Homo sapiens: one gene and its partners. The protein of the gene in region 3 purifies or fractionates together with the protein of the main gene of each other region. This does not show direct contact. Each region holds a gene or a part of one and is shown on either strand. Other genes may lie near its edges.

Region 1 (3,654 bases), on a different chromosome or scaffold from region 3:
AGAAGTGGGGAGAGTAGAGAGAAAACAATAGCACCCAAGATGAGCTACTGTACTCTGAGTACCCCAAAATATAGGGCAGCACTATGTTCACTTTCCAATTAATTATGTAATATTTTGGCCTCCTTTTCTAATATAAACACTTCTAATCTGTACATACTTTAAAAATATCTTTTAAAGATATTTTAGGGCTTTAAGCCCCTAAAAGTCATGATTTGAACATCAAACCAGTAAGCTAAAAAAAAGTTTGTTTGCATCCCAGGAGGTGAAGCCCTTAAATAAGCTTATGATTTCTAAGTGAATTCCCATGAATCAAAGAAGTCAAACACACACACACATCTCAAATGTTCACTGGGAAGATCTTGAGCTACAATATACAGAGGCTTAAGGTTTATAAAGCAATGCACTAGGAATTTCTAACTTATACTCTTTCAGAACTGTAAGCTAAAACGAGAAGGTGTAAGATAAACTGGAATTGGAGGAAGAGAAGACCTGGAAAGAAATGCGTTACCTTTCGCTTCAGCGTGGGCTTTGTGAGAATTGGTGGCGAGCTTGACCGAGGGCTTTCCGGCTCCTCCTCCTCCTCGCTGCTCTCACTGAAGCCCCTGAGGACAGCCCTGTCACCCTCACTGTAGCGACGGGGCAGCCTCTCACTTCCTTCTGTTAATCTGCACTTCAGAGCCTCAGGGCTTTTCTTGAGCTGTCCTCGCCAGGGCTCAACCCCCTCACTGAGTCTTCTCTTGGGAAGGTCAGGTTTCCCGTCCTGGCTTGGCTGCTCCTCAGAAGCCACCAGCTGTTCTTCACTTTCAGTGTATTGTTCCTGGGTGGCTTCTGATTTCTCCCCACATTCTCCATATTGTTCCTGAGGAGCTGAAGACGTCTCTTCCAAGAGCAGTTTAGAATCTTTATCACCAAAACGTTCCTGGGTTTTTCTGTTCTTCCTCCCCCAGCGGCCCCTCCGAGATGGCTGGCTATTTGCAGGAAGACTATCATGAGGAAGGACTTGTTTGCTCAAACGTGTAGAACTGACTGGAGCCATAACTTCTGGTTTCTTTTCACTTTCTACTGAATAAGAATCTTGTTCTTTGTTCTCATGAGACACAGACTTTCCCACCTGATTTTAGAAAATAAAACAATGCTGGTTAATTTTTCAGTCTTGTTTGCTTACATTTACCTATTCTGACCTTTTAAGTATTGAGAGAAGAAAAGGAAACTGAGCTTTAAAAAGAAAATGATCAGTTATTTAACATGGATATTTCCTGTTTCAGCACTGCTTTAAATTCTGTATATGCATTATTTATTTAATCTCCCCAACAATCATATGAAGTATTACCACTACAACTCCACTTTACAAATGAGGCATGTGGGGTAGAAAAAAATTTAAGTAATCTGCCCCAGGTCACGCAAGAGCAAGAGAAGATGCTGGGATAGAAAGCCTGGCAGTCTGACTCCAGAGCCTATGTTCTGAATCTTTCTGCAGTACCACCCTCAATAAGCAAAGTGAATACTATTGTTCTTTTAAATGTTAAATGAGATTGTTTAATAAAATTTCTCAGAAATAAAAATTTGTAAACAGGGTGGAGGAGACAGGATCTTGAGACATGGGCAAGAGGAAGGAGGCATTTGAGAAATATGAAAGAAAGTTTATGTAGTTTTTAAATTTACTTTTATTCTGAATAATTTCATTTTGAAAAATTAAACTGCACTAAAGAGAGGCATGGGATTTTTTATGTTTATTAAAGGAGGATACCGGTGTTGAAAGGATGAAGCACTGCTTAAAAAAAAGAGCTATAAAAGTATGCATCACATGAAGAAAAATACTGACAATGACACATGCACTACAGTTCACCAGCAACCCTTTAACGGCTAAAGAGATCTGTGTGTCCACAGGATGTTTTGGTGCCCCATCAGAAAACATACACAAGTTTACAATAGTTACTTAATATTCTATTTAAGGAAAATGTATCTCCATTTCATTTTGTTGTTGGGTTTTTTTTGTAGAGATGGGGTCTCACTATATTTCCCTGGTTGTCCTGAACTCCTAATCTCAAGCAATCCTCCCGCCTGGGCCTCCTAAAGCGCTGAGATTACAGGCATGAAACACCACACCCAACCTCCATTTCATTTTTAAAAACTGTCAGATTTGGATTCAATTCAGATTTCTCAACTACTATCCAGCTTAAAACTGAGCTGCTTCTTGGCACCCTGGTAACAAATATTTTTCTCACAAGTAACACATTATAAGAAATTTGATGGTCTCCTCCTAATTGTCCAAGGCTTAAAAATACTTAAGTAAACCAGGTCCAGTCTTCTTGAAATCTCTACCACTGAAATAAAACTCTTGACATTCTAATGTGAATTTACTTTTCTGTGAAAGATGATCATAATACATTATTATAAATACTCATGAAATCAAAAATATATCTTCTGTCATCAAAAATAGAGACTATTCATGCCCTTACACTGATCTCTAATTCTCTTTCCTGGCACTGTGGCTCTTCGTTTTCTCCTTCCTCAGCCTCCTCTTCTTCCTCCTCTGAGACCACAGAGTTGGACACTATGACTGGAGTCCAGCGCAAACATTCTGGATCTACATCTACAGGTCGCAAATTCAGCTGAAGCTTTGCCATGTGATCCTGGATAAGTTTTTCCCGGCGGATAATCACAAATCTGGAACCAGAGAAAAGTTTATAGCAATCAACAATGTACAAGGTGTACATAAAAATGAATGTGGAGATGAGACCCCTGGTGAAGCATGTAAGATGATAGGTGCTGCAAAGATAGCCTGCCTGGGACGATGGAATGCAGAAATGTGCCACCACATGAGACGGCCAGGAGTGTGAAGCAGGACAAATGCTTCGCTCTCTACCGTGGCCGCGGGCTGTTTTCACTGCCTGCTGTCTCACACGTCCCGCTCCAGAAGTTCTGCTGCTCTTCTGCACTCTCTTTCCTATTCTCCATTTATTTGGCTCAAATGCCTCCTTTCTTTGTGACCTTTTTCTGACCACTTTAGTGAAGGGTGAACTGTCTGTTCTTCCTTTCAATCTATATTTACTTTGTGCCATTTATATGAAAATTTAACATGGGCATTTTATTTAATGACTGTTTCTAGAGTGGTTACTTCTTGTATTGTGAAAGAGCTCCCAATACTAGAAGATGAAAGATTCAGTAGCTTAGGTCCAAAAATTAGGGGTATCAGAAAAACAATTCAGTTTAAAAAGCATATATATAGACTATATATAGACCATATATATAGTCAATCAAATAAAATATCCTAGAAAGGAAAATGATATCTCATTATCACCAAGTATATCATTTATATTAGTTAATGCCCTTTCATCAATAATCTGACTGGCTGATCCAAAAAACTTCAACCTAATTATCTTTCAAAGGTATACAAAAAGATGTGATACTCACTGGTCACTACGGAAGTCCAGCATTCGTAGGTGGTGGAGTGTGGAAGTGATGTCTTGAGGGCAGATTCCAGTCAACTTGCTTAACTTCTTAATGCTGATCTGCTTGTCATTTTGGTGATAAAGGCACTCCAATATTACACTTTTCCAATATGCCATGTAGGAAAGACGACCCAGATCAGATAACGGTTTCTCTGGAGACCCTGCTTGGCCTTCACGCTTTGATAACAAATAACCTAAAGAA
Region 2 (3,654 bases), on a different chromosome or scaffold from region 3:
ACCACAGGCACAGGCCACCACGCCTGGCTAGTTTTTGTACTTTTTTTTTTTTTTTTTTTAAACCATGACTCAGCCCTCAGGAGATCCTGAGAACATGTGCCCCTAATTTTTGTATTTTTTGAGATAGGGTCTTGCTCTGTCACCCAGGCTGGAGTGTAGTGGCACGATCATGGCTCACTGAAGCTTCTGCCTCCTGGGCTCAAGCGATCCTCCCTCCTCAGCCTCTTGAGCACCTGGGACTACAGGCATGAGCCACCACGTCCAGCTAATTTTTTTCTTTTTTAAGATGAGGTTTCACTATGTTATCCAGGCTGGTCTTGAACTCCTGGGTTCAAGGGATCCTCCAACCTCAGCTTCCCAAAGTACTGGGATTACAGGCATGAACCACTGCACCTGGCCCTCCTCTTCTAGTAATACTTTTAACAGGCATTGTCATCCAACTCCAGCTGAAAAATTAGTTACTTTCCTATGACTAGAGACCCCTGTTGTAATAAGGAAAACATCAATGTATAAAGGGAAGGAAATCCATTTATAAAATTTGTCATTTTTTGGTTACTTGAAAAATAATCAGAGCAGCAACTCAGATCTTGCTGGGTATCAATGGTAGACAGATTCTTGGCTAAGGAAGTTTAAATTTTCAGGACAAGTACTAAGCACTAAATGTTAACATTTCAGAATCGCATTGTTCACAGTGTTTATTTGAGAACTCATAAGTTGACTGATAACAAATCTCAGACATCGGCTTTCCAGTTTTTGACGCAGTATTAGATTTCTTGTGAAATTTTTAGCTTGAATTTAGCCACTAACTTCTTGTGTTTCCTAAGCTTAAGGAAAATGAAGAGGTGAAAAAAATAACATTTCCCCCTAACCATTGCTCGCCTTTCCTCCTCCTCTCTTCCAGATATTCCGAGTGGTGTGCATCTGTTTGGGTAATCCACCAGAGACATTCACCTGGGAATATCGAGACAAAGATAAAAATTATCAGAAAATTGGCCCCATAACACCCTTGGAGTTTTACAGGGAACATGTCAAGCCACTCTTCAATATGGAAGATAAGGTTGGTGAATGGCACTGGTAGTCACTGGCTGTTTACTTTCAAATGGCTGTTAACCACAGGGAATTGTATAAGATTCTTGGTTAGCATGTATGAGTATCAAACTAGACAGCAAACAAACATTTTTCCCCACTTCCTCTGAAGTATTTTATGCAGCTAATGAAGTTGGTGGTGCCAGGATTTATCAGCTTTTCCACAATGTTCCTCTTCAGAGACTTTTTAAACTGTAAGCCAGCAGTCATTTTAATTCCCACATGCGCCCCTGTATAGGACCAGAATCATTCTCAAGTGCAAAACAATGAAAGTGTGTTGGGTATTTCTTATCGTGGATTCAGAGCACTTTTGCACTGAGGTCCCCTCGGGGAACTCTCCTGTTGAAGGGAGTAATCTTAGTTTTTCCTGTTCCCTTTAGGTCTTCCTCATCTGCCTAGTAGGAGGATCAGAGCCTCTTCCTTTTATTGGCTTCTTGATCCTCTTCCAAGCAGATGCCTGTCTTGTAACTTGAGAACAGGGGCCTTGTGATTAGCTCTCCAATTTTTCTTACTCAGTGCATGTTATTTTTCAGAATGAGTTTTGAGGGCCGGGTGCGGTGGCTCATGCCTGTAATCCCAGCACACTGGGAGGCTGTGGTGAGTGGATCACCTGAGTTCGGGAGTTCGAGACCAGCCTGGCCAACATGGTGAAACTCCGTCTCTACTAAAAATACAAAAATTAGCCAGGCATGGTGGCGCACATCTGTAATCCCAGCTACTTGGGAGGCTGAAGCAGGAGAATCACTTGAACCTGGGAGGCGGAGGTTGCAGTGAGCCGAGATGGCGCCATTGCACTCCAGCCTGGGCGACAGAGTGAGATTCTGTCTCAAAAAAAAAAAAAAAAAAATTGCTTTTGGAGCAGTTCTTGCTAGTAGGAAAAACAGGTAGATGCACCTCCTAATTGTGTCTCTTACGCGAATTAGAATAAGCAAGGACCTCTCTCACATGTATTTTGCCACCTTGTGTTTCTTTGTTACTTAACAATGTGGCTGTAGTACTTAGCTTGTAGGCAGAGATGATGAGCTTGATGGAAACATGAACCTAGAGGAGAGCTGTGTGTTGCTTGACATTCCTGGTTTTGTGCCCTAATTAATGTGTTCTTGATCTTGATAGATTTGTTTAGTGAATGACCCTAGGCCCCAGCACAAGTACAACAAACTTTACACAGTGGAATACTTAAGCAATATGGTTGGAGGGAGAAAAACTCTATACAACAACCAGCCCATTGACTTCCTGAAAAAGATGGTTGCTGCCTCCATCAAAGATGGAGAGGTTGGTATTGTTTCTGTATTTTGCACATTGGGGTTAAAACATCTTTTACTTCTTTGGTATAATAGGAAGATGGGGTTTATGTTGACTTTCTTCCTCTTTCTTCTGTTTCTAGGCTGTGTGGTTTGGCTGTGATGTTGGAAAACACTTCAATAGCAAGCTGGGCCTCAGTGACATGAATCTGTGAGTGCAGGAAATTTAAAATGGAAAGTCATTTGTGGGTTGTTGCTGTTGGAGTGTGCTGTTGGTACAAAATGACTCTGCCGAGGTTCATCCAAAGATGAAGGTTGACCTAAGGGCGCGTCTCTTTCTTTGCATCCTTTAGAGTTTGAGGACTCATAGCAGAAACTCCACATACTTAAACACTCTAACCCAGGACATCAAAATCCCACTTTCTATCTGAGTGGAAATCGTTGGGCGTTCCTAAAAAGCCATCCTCTATGAGAAAGACACTTTAAAAAAATAATTGACTATTGCGGAAATGTGTTCAGTGCATTTGGGAGTGTAATGAAAGATTTTCCAGAGCCCCCGTTTGCTATGTTACTTTGGTAACTTTGTATTTTGTCATTGTGACAAGTGGGACTAATTTGCATGCATACTTTATAGCATTCCTCCTGGTCATTTATGACAATGAAGGTTAATTTGTAAACTAAATCATATAGGATTCCTTGACTGTTCACCATTCTCTATTTTAGGGTTACTTATAAATAGTTGTTACTTGTAGGAAGTTGAGTAAATATCTTGATAGAGAAATCTGCTAAAAAAAAGAATTAATGAGGTTTAAAAAATTTTTGAAAACAGGTACATGCAACTCCCAAGTGTGTCTCTCACACTAACTAGAACATGCAAGGACCTCTCTCACATGTATTTTGCCTTTTGTTTCTTTGTATTTAACAATGTGAGTGTAGTGCTTATGCAAAAATATTCCCCAATATTTTGGACATTATTTATTTAAATTTTAATCAGCAGTGATTTAAATGAATTCAGAAACTGGTTGGTTCCACCAGCTCAAAAGAGATCAGTTTTCTAAGAAGTTACTTCAAACGCTTTTTTCATTATTTTTTAAAGTTTTCTTGCCTAAATGACAATGTAAACTTGTCAGCTTCTGATGTGGAGAATTTATGTTTAATCATCTCCTTTTTTTCCTGCATACTCTTGTGACACATAGAGAATGGACTCCCACTGAGAGACTAAGTTCTGCATGTTCCATATTCTTTCTGAAGAGCTACAGCTAGAGCCTTATTTATTTGGAGCTGTTGAGCCCCTTCAGTTTCTTCTGAATTCCTTTTACAACCAAAA
Region 3 (3,654 bases):
TGAGAATGACGGGTATGTCCCCGATGTGGAAATGAGTGACTCAGAGAGTGAGGCATCAGAAAAGAAATGTATACACACCAGCAGCACTATCAGCAGAAGGACAGACATTATCAGGAGAAGCATCTTGGCTTCTTGATGCAACAGAGATGATGCGGAAGCCCTTTGGGCTCGTCATTGGGTTTGCTAGAGGAGAGCTCTGATGTGGGGGAGAAGCAGAAACCCATTAATCCTGAGCTACACAAACACATTTACTTGCAATTCAGATTAATTTTTTTCCAGAGTCATTTTTAAATCATTTTTGTGAGAAGTTTGTGTTATTTGCAACTTGTTGAGGAAACAGAAGAGTAGATTGTAACCATAAGACACTGCTAAGACTAGAACCCGAACTGAACACTAAAATAAAAATGAAATGTTTTAAAGAAGGCAAGGCTTAAATAAGCCTCATGAATTTTTATAGCCCTCTGCATTCTTCCCAAAGCACAAACTCATGGTTACCTGAATATAGGGAACCAGATATGGTTCTTGAGAAACCCTCATGGTACCATTCACAGCCCATAAAGTTTATTTTCTAGGACTGTGGTAGATCTTGAAATCATATTTATATTTGGCCCTCAAGGCTATTTTTGTTGCATTATAGCATATAGGCAGCAGCTCTGAAGCTTCAGTAACACTAAGAAATTTATGTGTAAATATAGCAGTCAGGGAAGAGAATTTTAAAAAAGGTCATTATTGAAGAAGCTGAGGGGACAGGGTAGAGCTGCTGCAATATGGAGATTTAGGGTAATATGGCAAGGTCCTGCTGCTTGAAGCCTGTGAGTGGGTTGTGGATATGGGACTGGTGGAGAGTGAGACTGTTAGGAAAGTTGTATCTATGAATAAGGGCAGTTGAAGTAGAATTTTTACCAGTCCACTTGACCTTCTTCTTCCCTAACCACTGGCTCTTGAGCCAGCTTGGGATTTCCCTGGCCATTGCCAATACCTGGCCATCTGGCTTCCAATAGTACAGTGGCTACTCAAGTTCAAGCGAAGAACTTCCAGACTCTGGTGACTGTTACTTCCCAGAGCCAACCACTAGTGCATATGTTAGGGAATCTGGGCTTCCAACATGAATGGATTCCTTAAGAAAAAGGAAAAAAAAAAAAAAAAGAAAAAAAGAAAAAAAAAAGAAAAAAGAAAAAAAGAGAAAAAAGCGAAATAGGTTATATTTTAAAAACAATAGAAAGGCAATAAGTTGCGATAAGCTCTTACTATTGACCAAGGTTATACAGGAAAGAGACTGAAGTGTACCCTTGAATAGGTTTTCTGTAGTCAGAGTTCTAAACTCTAATTTGTAACTTGGACTTTCTAATTGCAAATGGCAATAACTATTAAGTTATCAGCAATAATAAATTTAGCATTAAATTTGAGTACAATGTTTTGTTTTTGCACTCCCCATAGTGCGTATGTATTAAGACAGTGGATAGTGTTTAGGTCCTGTTAATTTTCTTTGGAATTCAATGTGGTTGTGAATCAAACTTAAGGAAGGAACGTTTAAATAGCAATGAGATACAGAATTATGGGCCTTTGGAACAAGCCCGACTTCCCCTAAATTCTCCTTAGTTTGTTAATACCAGTATTCAGATTCCTGATTCATTTATACATCTGTTTCCATATGGCAGGGACATTATGATACTTAATGAATAATGCTTTGAGGAGTTCTGCAGTTAACTTTCAAGTCTTCCAGATGATTGTCAACAACAAAAAAGGCTTATTGAATCCCATCTTGCTATGCAAGTTTTATCAGATGATCAAATAGTAGATCTGATACATCCCCATTGTATGTACGACATTTTCAAACCAAGTCTTAACTTTTCAAGGACATTTTAGTAGCTAATTCAGGGGAGGGGGAAGAATGATGCAGGTTTTTAGATTGACTGACTATTTTTGAGTTATGGGGCTCATTTTGAAAGACTGCTGTCCAGATCAGCTTGTTGCTGCAGATAATAGAAGGTTCTTATGAATCCAAGTTGTATATTCACTTGTAGGATAATTTAAAAATTAGATTTTTTTTGCATATGAGCAAAAACCTTTTGCTGGATACAGGAGAAGGTTGGACTTTATCTACAGTTATCTTTTGATTACAGCAACAGCTCTGGGTGAGAGTAGAATTTATAGAGGGATAATTTGTCAAGCCATAGAAAGAAAATCTAAATTAATCTAGTAAGTGTATGACCTCTCACCATTTTAAGAGGTATCAGATTCATTTGCACTATTAGGAATGCTAGTTTTGTGCAAAAATAATGCCTTACCTGTTTTTTCCCCACATTTAGGTTGAAAAGCTTTCAAATGTTCCAAGTTATGCTGAACCAAAAAAAACAAAACAAAAACAAAACAAAAAATATTAAAAAAAACCCACACAAAAACAAAACACACAAAAATAAAAAGCCCACACTTTTTATTCCTGCTTCGAAATGCAAATGGATAGAGCACGGTTTCTCTGACAGTATAATGATAGCTTTGTGAGTTAGTTTCATGTCATGCTGGGAACTCTCTATGAGGTGGCCATAAGCAGCAACCAGCCCAAACACCCACTTGCGTTCTATTAGTATGGAACCATTTGCATTTGTTTTTTTTAAGCTTTATCTTTCCTTGTGCATCCTGACCAAGAAATATCTTTGATTATGATTAATGTATTATGTCAAAATGTAGGCTAGTTAAACTTTTGTAAAGTTGCCTGGAATGTCATTTGTTAGGTTATAAACACAAGATCTAAATGAAGGGTTTTATGTGTTGTGTACAAATCTTATTTTGAAATGGACAAACTTGTCATTACATTTGTAACCTTGTACAGAGGATTTTTCACTATGTGCCTAGCTTGGTGTCCATTCAGCTAAAATTGAAAAAAAAAAAAAGGTGCATGAAGAGTTAAAAATCAAATTAAAGTATATGTAGAGATGACTATTTTATATTACATGACCCAATCCTGTATTTATTTCTACCCCCTTTTTGAAAGTATTTATAAAACTAGTTGAGGACAGCTGTATTTTTTTGTTGAACTATTTAGTAGAATTGTGCCTTTTTGTCTGTATGTGAATAAATGCTGTACATTTTGCAATACATTTTAAGTGTCTTTTGAAATCTGCTTTTGCTAAATATTTAAAGGTATATATGACTTAGCAGTCCTGAATCAGTTGTTTACTGTCTTCCACTTTAAATCAGGAATGAGAACTGTAGAGAACATATCAAATTTGTGCAGAGCACAGATTCACTGGGCTGCTTTCTGGCTCAACTCTGATGGCGAGACTGAAAAATAACGGTTTGAGTTTAGTCTTCCCCACCTGGAGTTCTTTCCAGAATACAGTTTTGGATCTGAAAACAGAATCGTTGAAACAACGTAGACTTCAGGGTCAGAGAGAACTGTATTTAAAGGCTAAACTATAGTTTACCAGGCACATGACATTGGCCAAGTCACTTAACCGTTTTAAGCCTCAGTTTTCCCAGAAAGAGGATAACATCTTAGTAACTTAGATATTGAAGTAGTTGTGATTATTTAAAGCAAGTCCATTGAGCACCTTACAGAGAGCATATATTAGGCATTTAGTAAGTGGTAGGCTATTATTTTTATTAGGAACAAGACACTGATGTTTACAATATTTTAACTAATGAGCTTTCTGA

The links.
Region 1: the proteins of JADE1 (region 3) and KAT6A purify together in Homo sapiens (affinity purification with mass spectrometry, with the first as the bait; one large-scale study listed by BioGRID). This does not show direct contact.
Region 2: the proteins of JADE1 (region 3) and BLMH purify together in Homo sapiens (affinity purification with mass spectrometry; one large-scale study listed by BioGRID and IntAct). This does not show direct contact.

The regions. Positions count from the first base shown.
Region 1 is NC_000008.11:41,940,334-41,943,987, forward strand, and holds part of KAT6A (histone acetyltransferase KAT6A), read right to left. Parts: intron 3,647-3,654; coding exon 3,415-3,646; intron 2,668-3,414; coding exon 2,460-2,667; coding exon of another isoform or gene 2,448-2,459; exon of another isoform or gene 1,716-2,447; intron 1,112-1,715; coding exon 509-1,111; intron 1-508. UniProt on the Homo sapiens protein: Histone acetyltransferase that acetylates lysine residues in histone H3 and histone H4 (in vitro). Component of the MOZ/MORF complex which has a histone H3 acetyltransferase activity. May act as a transcriptional coactivator for RUNX1 and RUNX2.
Region 2 is NC_000017.11:30,271,445-30,275,098, reverse strand, and holds part of BLMH (bleomycin hydrolase), read left to right. Parts: intron 1-901; coding exon 902-1,057; intron 1,058-2,199; coding exon 2,200-2,358; intron 2,359-2,470; coding exon 2,471-2,538; intron 2,539-3,654. UniProt on the Homo sapiens protein: The normal physiological role of BLM hydrolase is unknown, but it catalyzes the inactivation of the antitumor drug BLM (a glycopeptide) by hydrolyzing the carboxamide bond of its B-aminoalaninamide moiety thus protecting normal and malignant cells from BLM toxicity.
Region 3 is NC_000004.12:128,872,127-128,875,780, forward strand, and holds the end of JADE1 (protein Jade-1), read left to right. Parts: coding exon 1-136; 3' UTR 137-3,098; downstream 3,099-3,654.